7 linked regions of the Homo sapiens genome follow. The protein of the gene in region 2 purifies or fractionates together with the protein of the main gene of each other region. This does not show direct contact. Each region holds a gene or a part of one and is shown on either strand. Other genes may lie near its edges.

Region 1 (3,500 bases), on a different chromosome or scaffold from region 2:
CACTCTAATCCTCACAACAACCGTATCCATGAGATACCATTATTATTTGCATTGATAAGAGACCCAGGTTTGAGTAACCTGCCTAGGAACAGCAATTTGACTCTAGAGCCCAAGTTTTACATTAAAAACTATAGCCAGCAATTGCATTAACGTAATCCCATACCTGGCAAAAATTAAAATGTGCTCGAAACAATATTTTAAGAGCTTTGAAGAGAAGTAAAATATGCCATACTGATTTAGTAAAAGATTACCAAGAGAACCTGAAGTGTACTTCCTATATTTAGGACCAAATGGTTTTAAAAAAATCAATAATGAGCTCATTTTGTTCTCTTAGTGCCTATTTGTAAGTCTAAATCTGAAGTAAAATTAATAATAGACTAGTAAGAAGAAAGGTATGTTTGGTTATTTTTAGCACAGTGGATTAAGGCTTACTCTAATTACTGGCACTCAGAGAACATCTGAAAGTGCCTATTCTTATATTCAAAACACATGACTTCTCCGCAGTCAGCTAAATATCAGCTAAATATCAGCTGACTGTGGGTGAATGTAGCTGAAGTGTTCTCAATACCCACTGGTATGTCATTAAAAATTCTTTTGTTAGTAAAGAAAATCAGTAAGTATTCTTTAACAAATTATCAAGCTAGTAATTTGGAGATATATATGTTTTTAAATTAATTTTAAAAGACCTTAATCCAGTGACTCTTCCACAAAATGCTACACAAAACAGGAATCAAAAAAGCACAGTATTCTGTCTTGAAGGGATCTTCAAGAGCATTTAGAGATAAGGAAACAAAGTGACTTGTTTAAAGTCATAAAACTAGCTAACGTTACAAAGGGAACAGAACTTAAGTCCCCAGATTTTCAGTCTGTCTTTTCAGCTAATATTATTCTTATCCATCATTCCCCTCTCAAAAGGGGGAATTTGTATGCCAAATACTCAGGATGAAGAATGTAGATGAGATAATTTAACAAAAACAACAAAAATCACTTGCTGATATGAACAGCAGAAGTCCCAGTCCAGAATTTCTCAGGCGCTAAGCAGTAATTCTCCTGCTTAAAAAGCTCTTCGCTTCCAGCAGTAGGGAAAACAAACCACCTGTTTATACCAACAAAAAATATGTCCGTAAGTGGTAGAGTAGATGAGGTTTTCAGTATGAAATGGAAGGGGGAACGTATAGAGAAAGAACTGATAAATTCCACCTTTTGTATATGACTGATATCTCAATAAAGCTGTTTTTTTTAAAGTCCACCTTTTATTTAAAGGTGCTTGATATAAGTATCAGAGTTGGATTAGATACCCTTTGTAGCTTTCAAAAGAAAAAGTAGTGGCTCAACACGGACAGACTGAGTGACATGTGCATGAACACCAAGCAGTGCTTTCCTTTCTTCCCATAACAGCCCATTCCTGGGATTGAATCCCTTGCTGGTATTTTCCTCCTCCACACGGGGGACTCCTTCCCCTATCTAGAAATAAGCTTAAGCCTCTCACACCTTCTTTTTTAAAAACCTTGTCCCCCACTCCTATGTCTATGAGTGGTTACCACCTCGTCTCCTGTCCTTCACAGCAAAGTTCCCCAAAATAGTCTACACATGCTATTTAAATTTCTCCACCTCTTCACACTTCGCCCCATTACATCGAGAGTTCTATCTCCACTATTCCACTGAAAATGTTCTGGCAAAGGGCATTATATGAAATGCTCACTGTAAAATCTACCAGATTCCTTCCTCACTTTCATTGAACTTTATGCAACATCTGGCATTGGTGAAATTTCTCATTCCACTCTGAAGGTCCCTTCTTCATCTCCTTTGCCTGCCACTTGAATGCTGGTGATCTAATACTTTGTCTTATTTTCCCCAGACTTCCATACTTACACCAACCACATCCCACCAGAAAATCAGGCTTCTCTTAATGAAAGTCACATAGACATCCCCAAATCAACTCACCCCAAAATAAGCCGAGTTATCTAGCTCACCTTGTACCCCATCAGCAAACCAGAAATGTGGAGATCACCCCACTCCTCCCTTTCCTTCGCTGCTCTCTCCGCTTTGTTGTTGTCGTTGAGGGTCTCACTCTGTCACCTAGGCTGGAGTGCAGTGGCCCAATCAGGGCTCAGTGCAGGCTTGAACTCCCAGGCACAATCAATCCTCCCACCTCAGCCTCCAGAGCAGCTAGGAATACAGGTGCATGCCACCACGCCCAGCTAATTTTTTTTTTTTTTTTTAATTGTAGAGACGGCGGGGTCTCACTAAGTTGCCAGGGCTGGACTTGAACTCCTGGGCTCAAGCGATTCTCCTGCCTCGACCTCCCATATTCTTCCCACTTCTAGAGGTGACCAAGTCTTATCAAACCTACCTATTTGATAATGGCTATTTAGTGACAGCCCTCCTTTCTAGCGCCTGGGTTCAGGATCTCACATAGTCTCCTACTGATCCTGCAGGTGCCAGTCTCAGCCCCTCCTGCCCTCATCCATTGTCTCAGTTCAATCTTTTAAGATATGTAAACCTGATCTTTTTCCAGCCCTGTTTAAAATCTTTGCCTCTAAGCTTAAGATCTGAGTTGCAGCCCCATGTCAATCACTAACTGGCATATGGCCCTAGACAAGTCACTTCTCCCAAATTTGCATTCTTTATAAAATTGAAGTTTGATCAACAACGGCAGTTTTCAAACTCAAGAACTGTCTCCTGTGCAGAGGGGTAAAGGCCAAGTGAGCCAGGATACAGGATCCTCATTCCTGATTTCACAAGGAGCAGCCTCACTTCCACTCATTTTATTTAAGGTTCTACCCATGGGGCAAAAAGCTTAAAACAAAACAAAACAAAACAAAATCACCTGACTAGATCACTGTAAAACATCTCTCACCTCTCAAATGATATGACTTTTCTATAATCTTTAATAAGACCAAACGAAACACTGGATACAAAATCACCCAAAGATACAAAATCACCAAAGATCATTCAATAATAAAGAGGAGTCCTCAGTATTTAAGAAACTTATGTCTTGTAATCTCCATTTCTTCCCAGCCATCTCCCTGACAAAATATCCAACCCATATTTGGAGTGCAATAAAGGGAAGCTGAGAAGAAAACCAGACTTCTCTCCCACCCTCATTGTATCCCATACTGTTACTTCCATGTATACTCCCCACACAAGAGAACTTTTTATATGCAGAAATGCTCTTATCTTAAATTCAGCAAATTATTCAAAAAGAAACAAATGGGGAATGAAGTAAATGTCCCCTCAAAAAATGTTCTGTAAAAGAAGAAAGTTTATTTCTTTTAACCTACTTAGAACAATCTTGAGAAATTTATTTTAGGGTATTCAGGGTTTCAGATATTTATAAAATAAAGACGTATAGCATTAAAAAAATTTTAGTGTTAAAAGCCAATCTATGAGTCATTTTGTAACATCAAATTTTTAAAAAATCTGTCCTTGGAAAAATTATCTGTCATATTTAATTGCACCCCCACCATAGCAACAAGGGTACTTAAAAGTTAATAAAC
Region 2 (4,267 bases):
TGGACACAAAACAGTATTTCATTCCTTTATATTTATTTATTTATTTTTATTTATTTATTTTTTTGAGATGGAGTCTCACTCCATCACCCAGGCTGGAGTGTAGTGGTGCAATCTCAGCTCACTGCAACCTCCATCTCCCTGGTTCAAGCAATTCTCCTGCCTCAGCCTCCTGAGTAGCTAGGATTACAGGTGCATGCCACCATGCCCAGCTAATTCTTTGTATTTTTAGTAGAAATGGGTTTCACCATGCTGGCCAGGCTAGTATCAAACTCCTGACCTCGTGATCCAACTGCCTTGGCCTCCCAAAGTGCTGGGATTACAGGCATGAGCCACCATGGCTGGCCTTTCATTCCTCTTCTAACTTAAACAGAAAATAGTCTTTCATTCCTCTTCTAACTTAAATTCCTTCTCTTAGCAGGAATGCTATGTTTTCCTATGTACACAGGTCACTGGTAGACATGCAAAAAAGTACCTTGCCCAATTTTAAATTGAGCTTATTTTATTATATCTGCATATATATGCCGGTTTCAGTGGCTCATGACTGTAATCTCAGCACTTTGGGAGGCTGAGGTGGGTGGATCACAAGGACAGGAGTTCAAGACCAGCCTGGCAAAGATGGTGAAATCCCGTCTTGATTAAGAACACAAAAAATTAGCCAGGCATGGTGGTGGGTGCCTGTAATCCCAGCTACTTGGTAGGCTGAGGCAAAGAATTACTTGAACCAGGAACCAGAGGTTGTAGTGAGCTGATATTGCACCACTGCACTCCAGCCTGGGCTATGGAGTGAGAGTCTGTCTCAGAAAAATAAATAAATATTTGCACATATAAATAGGCATTTGTGTTTTCTTCTGGTACTTTTCTCCTTTTGTATCTTTAAAATTTTTAATCTATACTCCAGGAACTTATTTTTGTGACATAAAAATCTAGGTAGTTTTCTCCAAACAGCATGCATTTAATTTATGAATAATTCACCTTGTTTTACCAATATGAAACATCACCATTATCAAGTGCTAAATTCTTACATATATTTGGGTATTTCTGGATTTCCTATTCTGTTCTGTTCACTTATGTCTTTTCAGCTGTTAGTAAACAATTTGTGGAAATAACACACGCACATTTTGATATCTGGAAAAGCAAGTCTTTTTCCATTCTGTTACAAAAAATCAATTTATCACAATGATAAAATACATCATGTGCAATTTAAAGACACTAAGACTTTGCTATTTTTATTTGGCTTATGTAAAAGTGATAAACACAGAAAAAGCTCACATCTTAAGAAAAACGAACCTTCCTATTCAAAGATATGAACCATACTTCCCATTTCAGTTTCCTTTTAAGGTTACTCAGTAAAGAACGTGTTTACATAGGGTACACATCGATATAAAATCCATATTGGATTTTATTTGAAAAATATTTAGCCCAGAAGTTGATATATTATGGGACTTAGTTCTCAATATACACCTTTCTATAGTGTATAGAACATTGTTTTAAAATGTGTACATTAAAAATAATCTGCTGCATCGACTTAATTTTGCGAGTTAAATCACTTTAAAACCGTCTATTAGTGTTCTATAAGGGAAATTATAATTGGATTGGAAATCAGCTAAAGTTTTGTTTTTGTGTTGCTGTTTATAAAGGGACCTGGGCCCTGACATCTCTGAGGTTTCCACACCCAGGGTGGTGTGGGGCCTGCGGAGGAAGAGAAAGCCTGGCTCCTCCCTCCCTGCGCCAGGAGGGTATGTCCCCATCATCCCCCCATGTCCCGCCTCCTCCCATCCCAGGCCCGGTTACCTCTTTTGCTTGTCCCTCTTGTTCATGTCAGTGTCCCTGAGCATGACGATGAGATCCTTTCTGGGGACTTTACCCCACCAGGCAGCTCTGTGGAGCTTGTCCAGATCTTCTCGACGGACGTGGTACCTCGGCTCCATGAAGGCGCTGTCGTCGTAGTCTCCCCAAGTGCCCACGTTGCTCTTGCCGCTCCCCCTGCAGCAGGGGAAGCAGTGACAGCACCACTTGCCCATCTTGCTCCTGAGTGTCTTCATAAAGGAGTTGTCATGGTCTCCAGAAGTGCCCACATTGCTCGTGCCGCTCCCCCTGCAGCAGGGGAAGCAGTGGTGGCAACACTTGCCCATCTTGCTCCTGAGCGTCTTCATAAAGGAGTCGTCGTGGTCTCCAGAAGTGCCCATGTTGCTCTTGCCGCTCCCCCTGCAGCAGGGGAAGCGGTGGTGGCACCACTTGCCCATCTTGCTCCTGAGATCAAATGGCTTCTTCACAGCAGAGGCAGCGGGCATTGAACAAACCTCAGCCACCATCTGCTTTTAACAGCCAGGGGAGGCCGGTAGTAGCGAACAGATCGCGTCTACCAACCAGTTTCACCAACTAGCAGGAAACCCTGGGTTTCCAATCTGTTTGAAGAGAAAGGTCAATCCCAGCCAAAACTTGCCAAGCCCAGCAAGGGAGCCCAGCCCACCCCACCCAGGGAAAACCCACACCCACCCGGGGAAAGCCCACGCCCACCAGGGGGACCCCACGCCCACCCCAGGAAAGGCCAAGCCCCCCCTCCCAAGGAAACACCCAGCCCAGTCAAGGGAATGCCAAACCCAGCAGAGAAAAGGTCAAGTCCAGCAAAGGAATGCGAGGGAGGAAACGCCAATCCAAGCAAGAAACACCAGGCAAAGCTACTAACAGCCAAGCCAAGCTAGGAACGCAAGGCCAAGCGAGGAACGCGAAGCGAAGTGTACCCGTTACAGGTAAGCCAAGCCGTTATGCGCGTGCGGGGCGCGCGTGCGGGGCGCGCGCCTCAGACGTTATGCGGCGTGTGCGTGAGGCGTGCGCGTGTCATTGCACGTGGTCCAGGAAGTGGCCGATGTGTGCAATCCGCGTGCGCAAGTCTTGGCGCCACAAATGTCAGTGACAGCCTTGCGTTACTGGCAAAGTTCATGGGAGTTGGCCCAGCTTTCTGGCCACTGAGGAGAGAAGCCTGTGGTGGGAAAAAGCCTCTTGAAGCAGGACTGGGGCTAGAGCGCCTGGAACTCGAGGATGCTGACAGCCTCCTCTGAAGAAAGCCCCCAAGACACTAGTGGTGGCGCTGTTGCGGGTGGCCGCCGCTGCAGCTTAGAGCTCTGGTTGGCGGAGCTGGATGCAAATGGCCTCAAAATCTCCGAGCACAAGACGCCCACGGAGCCCAGGGCCTGCCTGAGGCGCCTTCCACACCTGCTCCTCCTTGGTCCGCACCCAGAACACAGGGCCATCAGCAACGGGGCACTCGGGGCCACAGAATCGGGGCTGGGCTGCTAGCTCCTGCTGTGGTGCCCCCTGCCTGGTGTCCAAACCAGGGCCAACAGCTGTGGGGCTTCTGGCCCGGGGTGCTTCGCTTCACTGGCATGCAGTAGGGTTGAGGTGCAGGCCGCTGTCTCCAGGCCTGCAAGAGGGGGCTGGGAGGAGCACCTACCACTGATGGGGAGATGCAGGAAGGCACCCCCACGTGCAGATCCTGGGAACAGGACACTGCCAGCACCAGGGAGCCAGATCGGAGCCTCCCTGGCAGCCTGTGAGCTGGACCCAGGCAGTGGCACCTCTACCCTCCTGCTGGGACCCTCCTGCTGTGCAGGCTTATGCAGCCAGGCTCCAGGCTGCTTCACCCATACTGCAGGTGCTTTGGTGTGGGAGGAAAAATGCATTCTGGCCGGGCACTGTGGCTCACGCGTGTAATCCCAGCACTTTGGGAGGCTGAGGCGGGCGGATCATAAGGTCAGGAGATAAAGACCATCCTGGCTAACACGGTGAAACCTCATCTCTACTAAAAATACAAAATACTAGCGGGCATGGTGGTGGGCGCCTGTAGTCCCAGCTACTCGGGAGGCAGGAGAATGGCGTGAACCTGGGAGGCGGAGCTTGCAGTGAGCCCGAGATCGCATCACTGCAACCTGGGTGACAAAGCAAGACTCTGTCAAAAAAAGAAAGAGAGAGAGAGAGAGACAGAGACAAAGACAGAGACGGAGACAGAGAGACAGACGGAGAGAGAGAAAAATGGATTCTAAGCCTGGGACACCGACCTGCTCTTGCCAACAAAAGCAGAGGGGAAGCCAATTGCAAGTGCAAAAAAAAAGTTTTTATTTCAGTGGGATGAATGTCTAGGTGTGCAGTCACTGGAGTAAACGTCACTGGGACATGCTGTGTAATTCTTTGTGTACATTGCTGAGTTCTACTGCTAATGTTAGCCCATTGCATTCATGAAACTGGTAATTTATGACATCCCTTTTTTCTT
Region 3 (3,947 bases), on a different chromosome or scaffold from region 2:
TCCTTACAGCATCACAGCCCCTGAAAACATCCTTTGCCCCCTCCATCACCCACCCCTACCTTCTGTACATGTTAGCCCCCTGCCTCCTTAGTGCACCCTCCTCCCCAGCATACAGCCCACTTGCCCCCCACTCCACCTCACCTCCACGTATATCCTTTCCACTGGAGCCTACCATTTCCCCCAGCTCTTGTCTCAGGAGCCCACAGCACTCAGCCTCCCAATCCCCTTGGGAAGCCTGCTCTACCCTTAGGGGCCAGGATACTTCTAGACAGTGCCCATGCCCATTGGCACACCTCAGTGGGAAGGAAGCTCCCACTGAAGGCTCTAACACATTTTCTCAGAGAAATGTTGTTGGCTTTGATTCTTGATGGAGTTTAAGTGCTATTTGTACAACTTTTTATCTACGGCATCCTTAAAGCTGGGCTGTGAATAACCATCATTTAGAACTCTGTTTCCATGGGGGAGCGGATGTATTCTGATGTTCAGATGATAAATTCAACAACAAAATTCTAAAATACATTCCATCTCCAGATCAGAAATTAAAGGAACAAAAGCACATTTCAAAATGAACAAAACATTGTGTTTAAAAAGGTGAATTGTGAAACATCCATGGGACATTCACATTTTGCAACTTATAAAGGGACAGACGTGCAAACTTACCTAACTAGATAAACAAGGACAACTTGAAATTTTACCAATAATTCATTAAATTAAGCTAAGTGGCCTCTTTTCAAAAGGTCTCCTCCAACCAGATTTATGTATTAGAAGAGTCCCGCTTTGATGGGATAACAGTTTCACCCCAAGATTCTGGACACTTAAAAGTATAATAACATTACATTTTGGCAACTCAGTATTGTATAATGTAATTAAATGGGAAACAAGTAGGTTAGTTGCTGCAAGGTGAGTCATGGTCAAGAAAATACTCAGTGAATGAACCTCCACCTTAACCTATAAAGAACGGTGGACGGTAGAGGAAATAAAATAGAAAGATTAATAAAATTAATTACTTCATCCCAAAAAAGTTTAGCCAGTTAGCGTCATAAACTCAAGGGCATAAACGTAAAAGACATCACTGAGTCAGCACCAGAGGTGTGGTTTGTCTCCATCTATACAATCTCTTTCAGCAACTGTTCAACTGGTAATGCTTCCCACAATAAATTCTCAGCATCTGCGGTCTAAAGCCTGCCAGCTTTAAAGGCAGGATCCACCCAGCCCCTTAGGCAGGCTCTAGAGGGTGTAGCCAGCACCCTAAATAGGTGTATACCCCACGTGTGCCTGAGCCCCAAAGGCAAGGGGGTGGAATTTGCAATTGGAAGGTGTGGGGACTTCTACTTTTCTGGGAACTATAGGAAGACAGAGAGAAACAAACGCAACAAAGACCTGCACTCCCAACCTTCCATCATTCTGTTTCACATTATTCTCATTCTCCAATCATTTTGAGCCTCCCACCGCCACCCCCACCCCCACTCCAATAAAAAACAAAAAACCCCAGTTTTCTCTTCTAAGTCTCTTTCATCACTCTCTCCCTTCCTGTTGCTTGTCAGCAATGATTCAGCCTCAGTCATGGATTTCCTCGGGGCTCTTGCACTTGTTAGGATGAGAAAGGGAAAGAAGGGAGGTGCCTGCCAGTAACCTAGCAAGATGTTTGTAACTGGGAATTTGGACATAAGCTGTTGAGCATTAAATTCTAGCCTCAATTGCTTGCCACCCGCACACCTTCTTCTTAAGTGTTCTGGCCGCCTGAGCTCTCATTTCCACTTCTAGGTCAGAGAGACCCTATAACTTCACCGCTCCGAGCATAGACAACATGCTAACCTGTGTTTCCATAACCTCCCAGCCTCCTCCTATAAAGAAAGCGCTGTTGTCTCTTTACATACCTATGACTCCTGCAATGAACACAGGCATTCTCTGCCTGTCCATTAACCTTACACAGGTAAGTCTCCCCACATATCACACAGAATAGGCCAAAAGTCTCCAAGTCCCGTTCCAGGAGCAATCTGCTCTAGGCCTACTCTCCTCTTCTAGATCACTCACCAGGATCTAGAGCAGTGGTTCTCAAACTTTGGTAGGTACAGGCTCTCCTGGAGAGCTGCTAGGGCACACAGACCCAGACTCAGGCCGACCCAAGTATGAAAAACACAGGTCGCTACCAGTCTGCACTCAGAAACGGGATCCTGTACAATTAAGAGGTTGTGTGAAAAAACTGTCTTTTCAAGTTCTGCTCCCCACTCAGGATCTAAAGAACACCCACGCCCCTCAGCGACCTAAGCTCTCCCACCTTTTCCCGGAACCCCCCACCCCCATGCCCTCTGCTTCCACCCTGGACTTCCTCCCACGAGACTTTTCCCAGCGGTCTCTCCTCCCGCTTCCCCTCCCGGGGTCCTCGGCGCACTCCTACACTGGAAAAGAGGAAACAAATGCAGCCTCCACGAGGGGCGGCGCCAGTCCTCTGGGGACCCAAACCGACTCCGCCCGAGACAACTTTTCAAACTTCTCAACTCACTCGAACCCCCACGACAATGAAAGAAACGTAGAAAAGACTGAAGCAACTGAGCTTTACACCCTGTGGAATTTCCAATCCCGCCTGCGCTCCCAAGGGAGAGTCCCCTATCCCTCCCGTCCGCCGCGCCGGCCAGGGGCGGGTGAAGCCCCGGGCCCCCCCAGTACCCCAAGCACCTCAACCCTGCACCCGCTGGGGTCCCGTCCGCCGAGGTCCGGGGCAAGGGAGCCCAAACCCCACTTACTTGCCCCAAGCCGCGCGCAACCGCGCCCGCCGCACAGCGCCGGCCGCCGAAGGTTTGCCTCCCAGGAAGCAGCAAGCGCCTGGGCGCGGGCAGGGAGGGGAGGGGAGTTACCTGCCCAGCGTCAGGTCCGCGGAGGGAGGCTGATTCCGGCTCGAACCGCGCCTCCCCGAGACAAGGTGCAGCGCTGGAGGGGGCGGGAGTGGAGACGGGTTACAACAAGTCCCAAGTGGTGGCACGCCAAACCCCGAACAGCCAGAAAGCGCTCGGAACCTGTCTGAACTCAAACACCCTGCTCTCTCCCAGCGGAGTATGAAAAAGCCTTTCTTTCCTGCCCGCCCTCGGGGCTACGGGGCAATTACAAGTCCCGACACCCTGCTCCTGGTCTGGGGCGAGGAGCGATCCCGGAGGACAGCGACGCTCACCTGGGAAGAAGGCGGATCTAGGCCGAGCGGGGCCGTGGTCCCGTCCTCGCTTTTCCCTGGGCTCAAGAATGCCTGGAGGAGAGGCCTGGGGGCCGCGGGTGAGAGCAAGGGTTGTAGCACCTTCGAGAGTGTGGGGCGGATTCAGCCCACAGTAGGTAATTCCAGTGGGCATCCCGCAGTGCAGACTCCTTCTCAGTGCCTAAGAGTCTTTAGGCTTGGAGAGGACGTGGGGAGTGGAAAAGTAGAAGAAAAAGTGCTTGTGCCTTTACTTTTTTATGTAAAAGAATTTCAAATATCATCAAAGATTTTGGTACTGACTCTCAACTGTCCTAGTTACAGATTTGGGATGAAAGGATATTGTTTAAAATAGGGAGATGTGCGTGAAAGCAGGTCCCTCTAGGTGGGATACTGCGGAGCAATGTTACGGAAGTGGAGACACTATAATTTAAACATAAAATACAGTAATTAATAAAATTTATTTTTTAATTTCCTTGCCTACACCTCAGTAAATCTGTCATGAGTATTTATAATAATTTGTGTAATCACGTAGACTTCAAGATAAAGTCATTTGCAGCAAATGTCTAAAATGCAGCCTAGTACTGTAAGAATGGAATTTAGGGTAGTAATAGGCATATTTTAAGCGTCTGGCATAATATATAAATTATCATAAAATTGAATTGACCCTTAAAAATGACTTTCGTGGCGATTTTGCTCCAAATAAAACAGTTGAGGAAAATGCTAAGCCATTAAGGTTTGGATGAATCCCTGACTGACGTGCTGA
Region 4 (4,020 bases), on a different chromosome or scaffold from region 2:
AAGTTTTACAATAACTCAATGGAGTATCAGTTTGAAAATCCAGATTTAAATTCATTAAAATTAAAAATTGAGCTCCTCAGTTGGACCAGCTACATTGCAAGAGCTCCATAGTCACTTATGCCTAGTAGCTACCATGTTGGACAACGAAATTCTAATTAGTTGATCATTTTATGTGAATAGATTGAAAAAACAGTACAATTCAGTAAAATGTGTTTGGCTATAATATTTTAATCCCTTATTGCAAGTAGGTAGCAAATAAATGAGGAAAAATCATTGCCACTGGAAAATATGGTAACTGGGTTAATGCCAGGGCACTACTCAATGATACCCAGTAAACAGCTTTTGTAGCCCTTATTCTAAAGGACACACACTGAACATGTGGTCAGGTGAAAGGAAACAGAACAATAGATGTGTCCATTATTACACTTTTCTGACTTTCACAGTCATGGTAAATAGCCTCGACGTTATAAGAATGGGATAAAAATCATATTCATTCTCAGATCTAGTAGAATTAAATATATAGTAAAACTGCCAAGTAAAGACTATCTATTTTGAAGAACTGACAGGTTGTTTAAATTAAGACAATACTTAAAGTATTAGAGGATACTTAAAAACTTAATATAATGTGAAAACAGTGGTTTAATGAAAACAAAATTCTTACGACAGCAAAATGCAGAATTTCGTCTTCGTTCAGTTCATTTTTCAATTTTCTGAATAAAGGTTGCATTGCTCTGCAAGGTCCACACCAGGCTTGGTAAACATCAATCACTAGAAGATGATGATATTTATGAAATAACAAAGTCTACCAATCTAGGATAGCAGTTATCCCAATCTGGAGCCATGGCCAGGGCAAAGGCACTGCAGGATTTCTTGGTCAAAGTGGGGACTCTAGAGGGACAGGGTGCCAGGAGGAGCTCCGGGTCAAACCCCAGGTGGCCAGACAGCCGGGGAGTCCTTATACCTGTTAAGCCTTTGTTCTGCAACATCTCATCCCACAGGCTTTGATTATTGATGACTGTCTGCAAAGTGGAAGGCACTGTAAAAGGTATTCAAGCACTAGTGCACCAGATAAAGAATTGTTGATATGTCAGACCCACCTGTAACTGGACTTCTCGTTTTTTGCTTGCCATTTATCTACTATCATAGGAAAAAGAAAGAAAAATTTTTAAGTAGGAAATTTAAATAACATTTTCTTTATGCATGCAAATAACATCTTTTAAAACAATTTTTAATTTTTGTGGGTACATAGTAGGTGTATATATTTATGTATCTCTGTATTTATGTACTTAAATATTTGTGTATTTAAATCTGAGATATTTTGATACAGGCATGCCATGCATAATAATCACATCAGGGTAAATGGGGTATCCATCACCTCAAGCATTTATCCTTTGTGTTACAAACAATCCAATTATACTCTTTTAGTTATTTTAAAATGTACAATTTAGATTTTTTGACTGCAGTCACCTGTTTGTGCTAGCAAATACTAGGTCTTATTCATTGTTCTTTTTTTTTTTTTTTTTTTTTGAGACATAGTCTCACTCTGTTGCCAGACTGGAGTGCAGTGGCACAATCTGGGCTCACTGCAACCTCCGTCTCCTGGGTTCAAGCGATTCTCCTGCCTCAGCCTCCAGAGTACCTGTGACTACAGGCACCCGCCACCACGGCGGGCTAATTTTTTTTGTATTTTTAGTAGATACAGAATTTCACCGTGTTAACCAGGATGGTCTCAACCTCCTGACCCGTGATCCTCCCACCTCAGCCTCCCAGAGTGCTGGGATTACAGTATTCATTCTTTCTAACTGCAAATAACATCTTAATGTACTAGTGAAAAATTTCCCCACTGTACATTGGATTATGCAGTGTCATCTTTGCTGGGGAGAGAGAAGCTAATGTCATGGAAGGACTATTGTATGCTAGGCTCTATGCTAAATGCTTATAGCTGCCACACTATCTTATCCTCCCAACAGTCCTGAAGCAAGGTAAGAATGTTAGGAGTTACACGTCGTCTGGTTTTTTTAAAGGTTTTGTTTTCCTGAAATATTAGAAAGTGTTTCCTATATTATCAATTGCAAACAAATGAACATGCCCGTGGATCTTTCTGGGGTCCCTCTTCAGATCTGGCTGCTCTAAGGATATTTAATCTTGAGAACAAGGCCACTAGTGTTTTCTGGGGCACGACATAAACTTCTCAAACTCCCTATTCAGTGGTATCAGGGGCGGTGTAGAACAGGGGTCAGTCAGCGTGCGGGCGATAGTGCACGCTAGCGTACAACAAAGGAAAAGCCACAAACAAGACTGTATTCCAGGAAAGGTGCTGGTTGCTCCGGCAAGCCTTACACAAAACAGGTCCTCCTCTAAGCTAGACTGGGACGTTTAAAGAAAAGGAAGGAACAGGCCCAGAGGATCTAAATCGGCTCCCTCGTTGTGGCCGTTTGAGCGGTGACCTCGGCGAAGTTCCATTCCAGTACCTAGGACCCTGGTAGGGCCCGAGGCTGAGGCTAGCAGGCCTCCTGCTGGGCTTTCTTCTCCAGCTGATTCAGCAAAAGGAAGAAGAGGGATTCCCTGCCTGTCTGGGAAGAAGAAGGGGGGCAATGTTTTGTCCAACCCATCTGCCCGTGAGACTTGAGCGGCGTCTCGAGGCCCCTGCTCCAGACAGCAGCTATACCTGGGCAGTGGGGACAAGACCAGGTGGCGCCTAAAATCCTCCACCTCTTCTGCCCACACAATGAAGGAACAACGAAGTCCTGGTTCCACCATCACAAGACTCTGTTCTTCAGCTGCCTCATCCCCAAACTCCCATCCCCCATCCTCCCATCCCTACGTTCCTCTATCCCCAGATGCGCACCAAGGTGCGCTTTCCCAAGTGCAGATTTGATCATATCTCTCCTCGCCTTTGAATCCTCCTGTGACTGGCCACGCTTTACAGCATAAAATGCATACACCTCAAATCGGAGCAGAAGGCTCTCTGCCAGCACCAGCCTTTTCTTTCTTTTTAACTTTGTCTTCATCTACCCTGGTTTGGTTCTTCTTGTTCTTCTTGTTCTTCTTCTTCTTCTTCTTCTTCTTCTTCTTCTTCTTCTTCTTCTTCTTCTTCTTCTTCTTCTTCTTGTTCTTCTTCTTCTTCTTCTTCTTCTTCTTCTTCTTCTTCCTTCTTCTTCTTCTTCTTCTTCTTCTTCTTCTTCTTCTTCTTCTTCTCTTCTTCTTCTTCTTCTTCTTCTTTCTTCTCTCTTCCTCTTCCTCTTCTTCTTCGTCTTCCTTCTTCTTTTCTTCTTCTTTTCTTCTTCTTCTTCTTTTCTTCTTCTTTTCTTCTTCTTCTTTCTTCTTCTTCCTTCTTCTTTTTCTTCTTCTTCTTTCTCTTCTTCTTCCTCTTCCTCTTCCTCTTCTTCCTCTCCCTCTTCCTCCTCCTCCTCCTCTTCCTCCTCTTCCTCCTCCTCCTCCTCCTCTTCTTCCTCCTCTTCCTCTTCTTCTTCTTCCTCTTCTTCTTCCTCTTCCTCTTCTTCCTCTTCCTCTTCCTCTTCTTTCTTCTTCTTCCTCTTCTTTCTTCTTCTTCTTCCTCTTCTTCTTCTTCTCCTTCTTTCTTCTTCTTCTTCCTCTTCCTCTTCTTCTCCTCCTCCTTCTCCTTCTCCTTCCTCTTCTCCTTCCTCTTCTCCTTCCACTTCTCCTTCCTCTTCTCCTTCCCCTTCCCCTCCTTCTCCTCCTCCTCCTCCGTCTCCTCCGTCTCCTCCATCTCCTTCATCTCCTTCTTCTTCTTCTTCTTCTCCTTCTCCTTCTCCTTCCTCTTCTCCTTCCTCTTCCCCTCCTTCTCCTCCTCCTCCGTCTCCTCCATCTCCTTCTCCTTCTCCTTCTTCTTTCTCCTTCTTCTTCTTCTTTCTTCTTCTTCTTTCTTCTTCTTCCTCTTCCTCTTCCTCTTCTTCTCCTCCTCCTCCTTCTCCTTCCTCTTCTCCTTCCACTTCTCCTTCCTCTTCTCCTTCCTCTTCTCCTTCCTCTTCCCCTCCTTCTCCTCCTCCTCCTCTGTCT
Region 5 (3,500 bases), on a different chromosome or scaffold from region 2:
CCCAACTTCAAAGAGAGTCTGTACCTTAAGTAGTGCAGCACAAAAGGGCTTTAGCAAGCTCTTTGGCAGGGTAGAAGCAGTGCAGTGGCGGAAACTTCTTGCAATAAAAAGAGATGTCTGCTGCTTGATGGTTGGATTTTTATTATCCATTACTGCTAAAACATCCTCACTGATGTTCTGTAGTGTGGTCTTTAGAAAGAAAATGTGGTTAATGAGCTTTTTTCAATTGTAAAGAACAATCAAAATATTATATTTACAAACTTTACTTCAGATAAAACTACAAACTCATGCTGTCAACTTACAGTAAGGAAGATTGCATCAATTGCCTCCTGCAGGGCTTGTACCACTTGAGGTTTCTTCTCTTTGAATTTCTCCAAGATGGTTGGCACAACCTGTAAAAGTGAATGGCTAGCACATTATTCAGCAACAAAGAGGAATGATATATTGATATATCCTAGAACATGGCTGAACCTTAAAAATAGTATGCTAAGTTAAAAAAAAAGCCAGTCACAGGCTGGGCACAGTGACTCATGCCTGTAATCCCAGCACTTTGGGAGGCTGAGGCAGGTGGGTTGCTTGAGGCAAGGAGTTCAAGACCAGCCTGGGCAACAGAGTGAGATCTTGTCTCTACTAAAACAAACAAAAAAAAATTAGCCAGGTGTGGTGGTATGTGCCTATGATCCCAGCTACTTGGGAGGCTGAGGTGGGAGGATTACTTGAACCCAGGAGGTCAAAGCTGCAGTGAGCTACGACTGCATCACTGTATTGTAGCCTGGGCAACACAGCAAGACCCTGTCTTCCAAAAAAAAAAAAAAAGCAGTCACAAAGACCATGTATTGTATGACTCCATTTACATGAAATGTTAAATCCAGAGACAAAAAAGTAGATTAGTGGTTGCTAGAGTCAAGGGCAGGGAGCAGCATGGGGAGAGACTGTTAATGGGCAAGGGGTTTCTTTTTGGGGTGATGAAGATGTTCTGGAATTAGATAGTGCTGATGGTTATGTAACATTGTGAATATTCTAAAATCACTTTAAGAGGGTAAATTTTATAGTATGCAAGTTTTATCTCAATAAAACTTACTTTCTAAAAAACCACCTTGTCTCCACCAAAACAAACCAATAAAGCAAACATTTAAGTGGAATAAAAAGTCATTTCCTTTCATGAAGGACATCGTATCTTATGCCGGAACAATGAAGAATTCTCATTCTCTCCCACTATGGCAGTGCTTCTCAACCTATTTGCCGCCTCTGCTCTGTCACCCACGTGGGAGTGCAGTGGGATGAACATGGCTCACTGAAGCCTCGGCCTCCTGGGCTCAAGTAATCCTCTCATCTCAGCCTCCCGAGTAGGTAGGCCTCAGGTATATGTCACCACACCTGCTATTTTTTTTTTTAATTCTTAATTTCTTGACCATTTCCCTGTAAATATAATTTTTTATTTTATTTTTTGTCGAGACGGGGGTTTCTCCATGTTGCCCAGGCTGGGGAAGAAAATTTCTAAGGTCCAAAGGACACAGCAAAGCTCAATGGCATCCAAAAACAAGAAATAATTGTTTTCAAGATTTCACAGAAGTGGTTATAGACTACTTGGTATAGTTCAAGGACTATGGTTCCCATGGAAAAATACAAGACTTTTTAATACTAGTTATAAACTTGAAAATCAAGATATTTTAATGTCTATAAAGCTAACATTCACTTTTATAAATATTGCCAAAAAGTTTGTAAACATTTAAAGAAAATAAAGCCAAGTCAGTAACATGCTTGATACTAAACACCGCATATATTACAGTATTAAGGTGGGGGAGACCCCAAACTACAGAGCAATAGAGACATTCTTTAACCAGGACAACAAACTGAAACAAAGCCAGAATCAGAACTCAAACTGGAAAGCCAGTTAATTATCCAACCATAATTTGGTAAATTAAAATGAATTTTAGGCCGGGTGTGGTGGCTCAAGCCTGTAATCCCAGCACTTTGGGAGGCTGAGGCAGGCAGATAGCTTGAGCTCAGGATTTCGAGACCAGCCTGGGCAAGGTGGCAAAACCCCATCTCTACCAAAAATACAAAAAGTACTCAAGCATGGTGTGGGGTGTGCCTGAAGTCCCAGCTACTCAGGAGACTGAGGTGGGAGGATCACCTGCGCCTAGGAGGTTAAGGCTGCAGTGAACTGAGATGGTGCCACTGCACTCCAGCCTGGGTGACAAAGTGAGACCCTGTCTCAAAAAAAAAAAACTAAAATTATTCTCTGAACTGATATTTAAGTGGTGTAGGAAAAAATTGTTTTTTATCTTGAAAAATTATTCCCAATATAAAAGTGTAAAATATCCTAAGTAATATAAAATTGATCAAAATGGCATATACACATCGATATTATATAATATTGATTGCTATAAAAATAGATTTTAATTTTATTTCAATTTATGATGTATATGTCTAAGGGTTTTACAGACCCTTATTTTTATTTCCCTAGTAATAAGCCAGTCATGATTTATTTTTATTTGGTAGTGTCTTCTTTTTCTTCAGTTAAGTTCTCTGAGATTATTTTTAATGCTATGAGTAAGCAAGCTCCAAATACCATAGCTCATGTGAGGCTAGGTATTAGCTTCACAATATAAAATGGACACATGACTAGGGACTATTAGGAAACTCCTAAGTCAGTCTAGGGAATCAAATGATGAAGGGGCTAGCAAGCTAAACTCTAAAGATCAATAAGGTCAATTTTTAGGATGCTGAGCCATTCTTAGTAATGCAGACCGGATTTAGAGGCCAAAGGACAGATGCCACAGTTAAAGAAAACATCTTAATTAAAATTATTACCAAATTTGATTGGAAACAAACTTATACAAATAGTAAGTCAACAAATGTCTCCAGTCAGATTTTCTTTGAATAAGTAAAACGGAGATAACCTATATAAAATATATAACATTGTAACCTATATAAAATGTCTCAAATATGTAAGTAAATTATATATTAAAATAGGAAAACAATGTAAAACACATTTTATATATTAACCTCACAGTTTTACATTTATAGTTTTACATTGCCTTTCCGACTCTCATTTTCATTCTGGTCCTGGTCGTTACAAGTTTTGTTTCATCTTGTTATGATGTGTATAATGTTGTAAGAACAAAGCAAGATACTAGTAAGTAAATAAGTAATAAGCAAATAAATAAACTCAACTAAGTACTTTAGGCCTAGTGCCTGACTTTCTACATAAGGCCTATAAATTTTGTTACAACTGACATCTACTGAAATTTCTAAGATATATCTATGCTGAATATTAACAAAACAGAGAGAAATTTACTTTGTACAGTATATACACATCTATGCCAAGGAGTTGTTTTAAAGCAAACAGCAAACTAGGCCTACCATTTTTGATAAATTTTGTTGATCTGTATCTAAAAAGGAGTGTTACTTACATGTCCTGCATATTGTCCAAATTTCTTCCTTAGCCCAACAGCCAGGCCAGTAAGACATTTTGCTGCCAAAGCCACCAACAT
Region 6 (3,500 bases), on a different chromosome or scaffold from region 2:
ACCCTACCTTTCCCACTGCTCAAGCTCAAAGCTCCCCATTTTCTTGCTCAGAGGCTGCCTGGATGTCTTCCGGTTAGATAAGAAGTCCCCCGACATGACCCCACCAGGAGAGGGACGTGTGCCCGTGCTTTATCCCTTCCTATCAGACGGTAAGCCCCCTGAGTGGGGAATCTGTCTCCGACTTAGACCCCAGCCCTGAACACAAGGCTCTGGGCCGACAAAGGATGACAGTGGGCGTGCAAATCTTGGCAGAGTCCCTCCATGCACTGTCAGCTCGCTCTCCATTAGAAACTGACACAGAGAGGGACCCCGTTTGCAGATAGGATGCCATATTTCAGCTCCCCAAATCCAGAATGTGCGGTCCCTCGGAGTCTCGCCGGGACAGACCACAGCACGGGACAACAGAAAAGGCAGTGAGACATTTCATGCAAAAGCAACAGAAACTGGCTGCTTACCTGAGCTCACACAGCCCTGCTGCAGCGGGTCCTGGAGCGATGTCACGGAGTGGAGGACTAAAGTAGAAAAAGGTTATAATTAAAGGAAGGAACGCGGCCCAGGGCTTAAAGCTTCCTAACTGAATGTGGCAAGGCCCGGGGAGGCTTCCCATTCCTCCTGGGGAGGGGCGGGCATGGGGACCCACGGGCCGGGGAGGCGCTGCTGTTGCAAGGCCAGGCCCCCGGGCCGGGAGCAGGTGAAAGGTTTCGCCTGTGACATCTTCCACTTTTGTACCTTTGGCTGACTTTCTTTCCTGACTCCCTGATTCAGCTACTTGACTTTTACCTGTATTTATGTATAAACAGCATTTTTTAAATTGGTAACTCATTTTCTGCTGCTTATAAAATTAGACAGGCATGATCTCTCCTAAACACTGAAGTCAGTCCCACGGCAACAGGTTGTGGAGGAAGGGGACGGTTCTGTCCCCCAGCACCAGCCCACGGTGGGGAGTGTGGTTGGCCACCTCCTGGGGCGGAGTTCCCTCCTCCCTCTCTGCATAGCCCAGGTGGGGCTGCTGTGACCAGGTCCTTGCTATGGGGGGGCAGCCCCTCTCCTGTGGCAGGACCCCCATTACCTGGCCCTTGCTGCTGGCCCTGGACGGGTAGAACACCCTGGCCTAGCTCGCCGTTCAGCCAGAGCTGCATCCGGATGAAGGGTTCTCGGCCTTTCTGCGTCAGCTTGCTCCATGGCTTCGGTCGGGACAGCATGTCGCTGACGCTGCCCTGGGACAGGCCCAGCACCTGGAGTGGCACCGAACACACAGGCCATCAGTGCCTGGCTATTAGCATGACACCACAGATGCTGCTGCAATGCACACCCACCACGCAGAGGGCGCGTCTAGGGCTGACTTCTGAGCACAGAACCACGGCCTGGTGGCGGTGACAGCTTGTGGGCAGGGAATATGCATTTAAAGATCAACGGTGGCTGAGACCCCGGCACAGGGGGACTTTCGGGTGAGCCATGGTTACAGCCACAGCTCTCAGCTCCCAGGGAGGGAAGAGGGTCTCATCCCAGGGTCTTGATCCTGCCAAGATGGCAGGGCTGTCACCCTGACACCCCGCGGAGGAGGTGTGTACAAGCACCTTGCTCTTCACTTGGTGGCACCGGGAAAGGCTAAGGTTCCAGGGACAAGATCCCTCCAGAGGTGGGGCAGTGGGTGCCGGTGGGACTGGCGAAGCTGGTGTCCTCTGCAAACGCTGAGCCAGGCCAGCATTTAGAAAGGTCTGCTTGTTCTGACCACATCCTGATCAAAGGTGGGGGCCCAGAGGTGAGCTGGTGGGACCTGGGGAGCCGGCCTGGGAGTGACATTCCGCCGCAGATGATTGCCGAGTTGCGTGTACACACCCGAGTTTTCTGACGCTCCCATATGGCCATACATATGTATAGGCACAAACACCCCCCACAGGACACAGATGCCGCCCTGGGATATTTAGGGGCTGCATCCGATCACTCTTTTGAAAAGTTCTCAAGTTCCAGAATAAAACTGCACTCACGGGCCAAACAAGTTCAATGTTATTAAGTCTCTGCTAAATTTAAGGCATGAGCACGAATGTCTATTTCAATGTTCTCAAATGGTATTTTTACAACACTGAACTAGAAATCTCAAGGGACTTGAAATACTCATCCTCATTTCTAGTCGCCCCCCTTCACCTTTTGCAAAATCAGGGCAAAGTTCGCCATCGGACACCACCGGGATTCACAGCACAGCATACGGCAAACACTGAGTGGAAGGCGGGGTGGGGAGTGCGGGGACGGCGCCATGCAGGGACCCTGGCTTGGCAGGGGAGGGGGTGGGATTTGTCCCCTGCTGATCCAGCCACGTGCTCCCTCAGGAAGGTGCCTTTTAGGGGAGAGGGGTGCTTCTCCTTCTATTCAGCACTCCGTTATTTAATCTAAAATGGTAGGGGGTTGGGAGGCCAAGGCAGGCAGATCACTTGAGGTCAGGAGACCAGCCTGGCCAACATGGTGAAACCCTGACTCGACTAAAAATAGAAAAATTAGCTGGGTGTGGTGGTGGGCACTCGTAATCCCAGCTACTCAGGAGGCTGAAGCAGGAGAATCGCTTGAACCCAGGAGGCAGAGGTTGCAGTGAGCCGAGATAGCGTCACTGCACTCTAGCATGGGCGACAGAGTGAGACGCCATCTCAAAAAATAAATAAATAAAATGATACTAGGACATGATGTTTATTTTAGATTTGGCAGGCACGGTTAACCCTCATTCTCCTGAATCTCAGTGACCAGGAAAGTGCCAAGAACAGAAAGGCCTAGAAGCTCGTCCATGCACGATTACACTTTCCTGAGCCAGGGAAGGATGATAGGGAAACACGGGCCACCCTGCTTGGGCCATCCCCAAGCTGTGTGTCCCCGGGCAGGTTGCTTGACCTCTCTGACTGAACAATATCCAAGAGTTACACAGAAAGGAACAATAATGCTCTCTGCAGCTTTTTCTAGTAAGTCCCTTTTGGCTCTCTGCGTACTGGTGGTCCCTCTGTGTGATCAGATGGGATTTTTTTTGGCCAAGGAAGCCTGCAGGGGTGCCTCTCAGCTCCCCTTGGCAGCAAAAGCTGGATGTGGACTCGGCTGCCGGTCAGCTTGGGGCAAGTAGTTAACGTCCCCAAGCCTTGGTGTCCTTCCCTGTCAATTGGGGATTTTACCATCCACTTCCCAGCGCCAAGTGAGGGGTCGAAAGGGCAGCATGCAGGTGAAAGGCTGAGCCTAGAACCTGGCTGCAGTCGGGGCTCGGCAAATGGGATCGGGGCTGCAATGTTCACCAGCCGCACCTTGGAAGTCTGGGAGCAGAGGATGCCTTACGCTCTGCTCTTGGGTGAATTGAAATGGGTGAGGGTCACAGGCTGCGGGATAGATACTTGGTCCTCAGCAAGGAGAAGAGATGGGAGAACCAAAGCCCCCAGAGCAGATCCCTTACCTTCTCCCCGAAGATTCTCTGGCAGATGCCGTTCTTGGCCAGCTTTTCCTTAACCTGCCGGGTGAGCTCGATGGTGTCC
Region 7 (3,500 bases), on a different chromosome or scaffold from region 2:
CACTATTTCCTGGTCTAAAACACAGGTGCCACTTACCTGATAGGGGCTGCTTTGAGGATTCAGTTACATAACATTTGTTAAAAGCACAGAGCAGGCTGGGCATGGGGCCTCATGCCTGTAATCCCAGCACTTTGGGAGGCCGAGGCAGGCAGATCATCTGAGGTAGGAGTTCAAGACCAGCCTGGACAACATGGCAAAACCCCATCTGTACTAAAAATACAAAAATTAGCCAGGTGTGGTGGTACGCACCTGTAATCCCAGCTAACTGGGAGGCTGAGGCAGGATAATCTCTTGAACCTGGGAGAGGGATGTTGCAGTGAGCCTAGATTGGGCCACTGTACTCCAGCCTGGGCAACAGAGTGAGACTCTATCTCAGGAAAAAAAAAAAAAAAGCATGGAGCAGTGCCAAAGACAGAGTGGGGGCTCAAAAAATACTGGTTGCTGTGATTAAAAGGGCAGCCTCCTGGAGCTACTGTCAAAAGCAGCAACTTCCAGGGTGGCCTTCAGGCCTTCAACAAGGGAGCTGGTCCAGGCTCTATTAAGAGGCAGGACAGTACAGGGGAGAGGCCAAGGTCTTGAATCCTAACATTTCTTTTAAAGAGCTTAACTGAGATCTAATTCACAGATCATACAATTAACACAAATTCTGTAGTTTTTAGTATATCCACAGATATATGCAACCATCATCACCGTTAGTCAATTTTAGGACATTCTCATCAGTTTAAAAAGAAAGTGCTAAAATAAAGTACCCTTTAGCAATAATCCCGTCCTTCCCCCAACTCCCCAGCCCTAGGCAACCACTAATCAATGTCTCTATAGATTTCCCTATTCTGACTTAATGGAATCATATCATATGTGGTCTTTTGTGACCGGTTTCCTTCACTTAGCACGTTTGCAGGTTCATCCATGCTGTAGCATGTATCAGCACTTCATTCCTTTTTATAGGTGAATAGTATGCTATTGTATGAATAGACAACATATCATTTATCCACTTATCAGTTGATTGGCATTGGATTGTTTCCACTCTTTGGCTTTATGAATAATGCTTCTATAAAACTCACACATAAATTTTTGTGGGGGCCCATATTTTCATTTCTCTTGGGTAGACACCTAGGAGAATTGCCAGGTCACAGGTACTGTTTGTTTTCTGTAAGACCAGGCAAATGACTTTGCTCACAGCCTCAGTCCCTTCCTTGTAAACAGGGATACCGCCACCAGCCAGCTTGTAGATAATGGATGCTTGGTCATATTTGTTGACTATGGTGAAACTGGATATAGTGTACCACAAACCTTTTCCTGTTCAGGATGAACTTTCAGATCCATGCACATATCCAGAAATTGAGAGAGGAGAGCCTGGTCCAGAAGGATATACACAGCAACTCCCTGTTTCCTGCATATTTCTTGCAGGTCTCTGAAGATGTCGATGTCTGTGAACACGTCCATGACCACTGCAATCACCTACAGGTGAAACAGGGAAGAGCACATGATAAGCTTATAGGACACCACCTTACAGCACGCTCTCTGGACTCTGGACTCCACTCAGAACTGGGAAATGATCCCTATCCAACAGTTATCCTTCCCTCCCCCTTCTGCAGTGTTGGTGCCCCCCTCACCATGGACTCTTTTGCATCTCCAAAGACACTTGGGCCCCGTGTCCTAGAAATCTTGACTTGGCCTAGCTAACACTCCCAACTCCATGCTGGGAGGTTTCTCAAAAATACAGATCAATCCACTGCCTTGCTCTCTTATGAACCTGCTCCATTCACCTTCTATTCCTCCACTAAACTCCTGTCTTACAGGCTTATTCAGATCAGCAAGCTGTCTGGTTCTGTGGGTAACACACTGTCATCTTTGGCTTGTTGCTTTCCCCACCAGGCTTCAGTTTGCTGTCCGTTAAACAAGTAAATAAAACCTCAGATTCTCTCTGAGGGCCCTTCTGGAGGGTAGCATTCTCGAAATCTATTTTTTAAATTATTGTCTGGTTTTGAATCATAATCTCTGACTTTTTTAAGGCCTGTCCCATTCACCACCAACTCATGACTCGAAAGCAATCGAAGCAGGCCCATGGATTCTCCCTTCTTCTGCCTCCCTAACACTGCATACCATATTTGTTAACATTCTGTTCTTTCTACCAGCCAGGCCTGATCAGCTGTCTGTTGGGCAGGTTCTAACCAAATGACTTCCACTGCACTGGCCTCTCCTCAGTAAAAGGTTCTCTCTGCAGTTCTTTGGTATCCGTCCATAGTGCAAGCCCACAGCAAAGAACAGGGAAATATTTCCTAAGGATTCTGCCCTTAAGCTCAGAACAGGCCTTTCTTCTCCCCAACAACATGGCTCCATTCATGCCTCCCAAGTGATTTTCCACACCTAGCATCAGACTACAATTAAGAGCTACCTTTTAGCCATGCATTCCTGGGCAAATTACAGCTGTTTCAAATGTCTGTTTCCTTAGCTGCAAAATAGGGTTGTATCGAGAACTAAATGACTATGTTACATAAAGTGCAAGGTACAAAGGATCCCTTAGTATCTGCTCGTTTATTCACTTTACCAGTCCAGAGCTGGAGCCGTCCAGACAGTTCAACACAGGGAGACACCGCCTAGCTTTCCTCGCTCTTTTAAAGACAGGCTGCTCCTGCCACAATGCCTCTAATCACACCTTTTGCAGGCTTAAAACCAAGGTCCTCAGCAAACTCCTGGCAGGGCAGTGGGGGTGTCCAAACCTCCAGGCTTAGAAACAGGTCCTGACAAACTGAGTCAGAAGTTGGGGGTGTTAACTAAGGAAGCCGAGGCTTGGGGGCTCTTCTGTAGTCTGGAGATATAAGGGTTTCTCCTTCCTCCCCATTTCCACAGTAAAAGCCTGTCTCTCAGAATCACATTAACTCTTTTTCTGAAAGTTAGGATTATTCATTTATGGGTTTCACTCCTTCTCCTGCAGCAAAGGCTCTTGAATGGGATTGAGTCATTTCTGTGGTCCCAGAGGACTTAGGACAGTATATGACAGTCATGACTCCTTAAGGATTTGGGGGATTAAAGAAGGAATGAAGAGGCAAAAAGGCAATTTGGCTGTCTTTCTCCAACACTCCAGGGCCTGGTCTACTAGGATGTGAGACCCTGAAACACCAGTTCCTGGGAAGTCATTGCTGTGAGGGGGTTGAGAAGACCAGTTACTCTCCTGCTGCCTTTCCCACCCCACCCCTTTTAATGATGGTCTAAGCTGTGGGCTATTCTTGGTAAAGGGCATGGCTGAAACCCACTGAACACAGTGATTTAAAAAATGAGAAGCGTTCTTTCTGAATTTGTGGCATCCTCTGAAGTTTACATCCTCCACTGGCTTTACACATCCTATTTTGACAGTTCTATTCATCCCACTCATTCGGGTCATACAACAGGAATTAAAGGCAAAAGTTCTGGGCATAGAACCCAGCTCTACCACCTACCAGCTGTGTGACCCTGGGCAAGTGGCTTAATCTCTCTGAGCCTCAGTTTCCTCCTCAGGAAGA

The links.
Region 1: the proteins of POTEB3 (region 2) and AP1S2 purify together in Homo sapiens (co-immunoprecipitation; 2 studies listed by BioGRID and IntAct, with this or other methods). This does not show direct contact.
Region 3: the proteins of POTEB3 (region 2) and FAM83B purify together in Homo sapiens (co-immunoprecipitation; 2 studies listed by BioGRID and IntAct, with this or other methods). This does not show direct contact.
Region 4: the proteins of POTEB3 (region 2) and NME8 purify together in Homo sapiens (co-immunoprecipitation; one large-scale study listed by IntAct). This does not show direct contact.
Region 5: the proteins of POTEB3 (region 2) and CKAP5 purify together in Homo sapiens (co-immunoprecipitation; 2 studies listed by BioGRID and IntAct, with this or other methods). This does not show direct contact.
Region 6: the proteins of POTEB3 (region 2) and CUX1 purify together in Homo sapiens (affinity purification with mass spectrometry; one large-scale study listed by BioGRID and IntAct). This does not show direct contact.
Region 7: the proteins of POTEB3 (region 2) and FAM83D purify together in Homo sapiens (co-immunoprecipitation; 2 studies listed by BioGRID and IntAct, with this or other methods). This does not show direct contact.

What each region holds. Positions count from the first base shown.
Region 1 is NC_000023.11:15,848,314-15,851,813, forward strand, and holds part of AP1S2 (AP-1 complex subunit sigma-2), read right to left. Parts: intron 1-3,500. UniProt on the Homo sapiens protein: Subunit of clathrin-associated adaptor protein complex 1 that plays a role in protein sorting in the late-Golgi/trans-Golgi network (TGN) and/or endosomes.
Region 2 is NC_000015.10:21,437,700-21,441,966, forward strand, and holds the start of POTEB3 (POTE ankyrin domain family member B3), read right to left. Parts: upstream 2,801-4,267; 5' UTR 2,313-2,800; coding exon 1,792-2,312; intron 1-1,791.
Region 3 is NC_000006.12:54,845,624-54,849,570, reverse strand, and holds the start of FAM83B (protein FAM83B), read right to left. Parts: upstream 2,801-3,947; 5' UTR 2,745-2,800; intron 3-2,744; exon of another isoform or gene 1-2. UniProt on the Homo sapiens protein: Probable proto-oncogene that functions in the epidermal growth factor receptor/EGFR signaling pathway. Activates both the EGFR itself and downstream RAS/MAPK and PI3K/AKT/TOR signaling cascades.
Region 4 is NC_000007.14:37,847,377-37,851,396, reverse strand, and holds the start of NME8 (thioredoxin domain-containing protein 3), read right to left. Parts: upstream 2,801-4,020; 5' UTR 2,669-2,800; intron 2,574-2,668; 5' UTR 2,341-2,573; intron 1,138-2,340; 5' UTR 1,131-1,137; coding exon 1,098-1,130; intron 1,020-1,097; coding exon 962-1,019; intron 769-961; coding exon 662-768; intron 1-661. UniProt on the Homo sapiens protein: Probably required during the final stages of sperm tail maturation in the testis and/or epididymis, where extensive disulfide bonding of fibrous sheath (FS) proteins occurs.
Region 5 is NC_000011.10:46,797,781-46,801,280, forward strand, and holds part of CKAP5 (cytoskeleton-associated protein 5), read right to left. Parts: coding exon 3,420-3,500; intron 393-3,419; coding exon 303-392; intron 190-302; coding exon 25-189; intron 1-24. UniProt on the Homo sapiens protein: Binds to the plus end of microtubules and regulates microtubule dynamics and microtubule organization. Acts as a processive microtubule polymerase. Promotes cytoplasmic microtubule nucleation and elongation. Plays a major role in organizing spindle poles.
Region 6 is NC_000007.14:102,202,126-102,205,625, reverse strand, and holds part of CUX1 (Homeobox protein cut-like 1), read right to left. Parts: coding exon 3,422-3,500; intron 1,236-3,421; coding exon 1,070-1,235; intron 513-1,069; coding exon 456-512; intron 1-455. UniProt on the Homo sapiens protein: May be involved in intra-Golgi retrograde transport.
Region 7 is NC_000020.11:38,939,917-38,943,416, reverse strand, and holds part of FAM83D (protein FAM83D), read right to left. Parts: intron 1,459-3,500; coding exon 1,291-1,458; intron 1-1,290.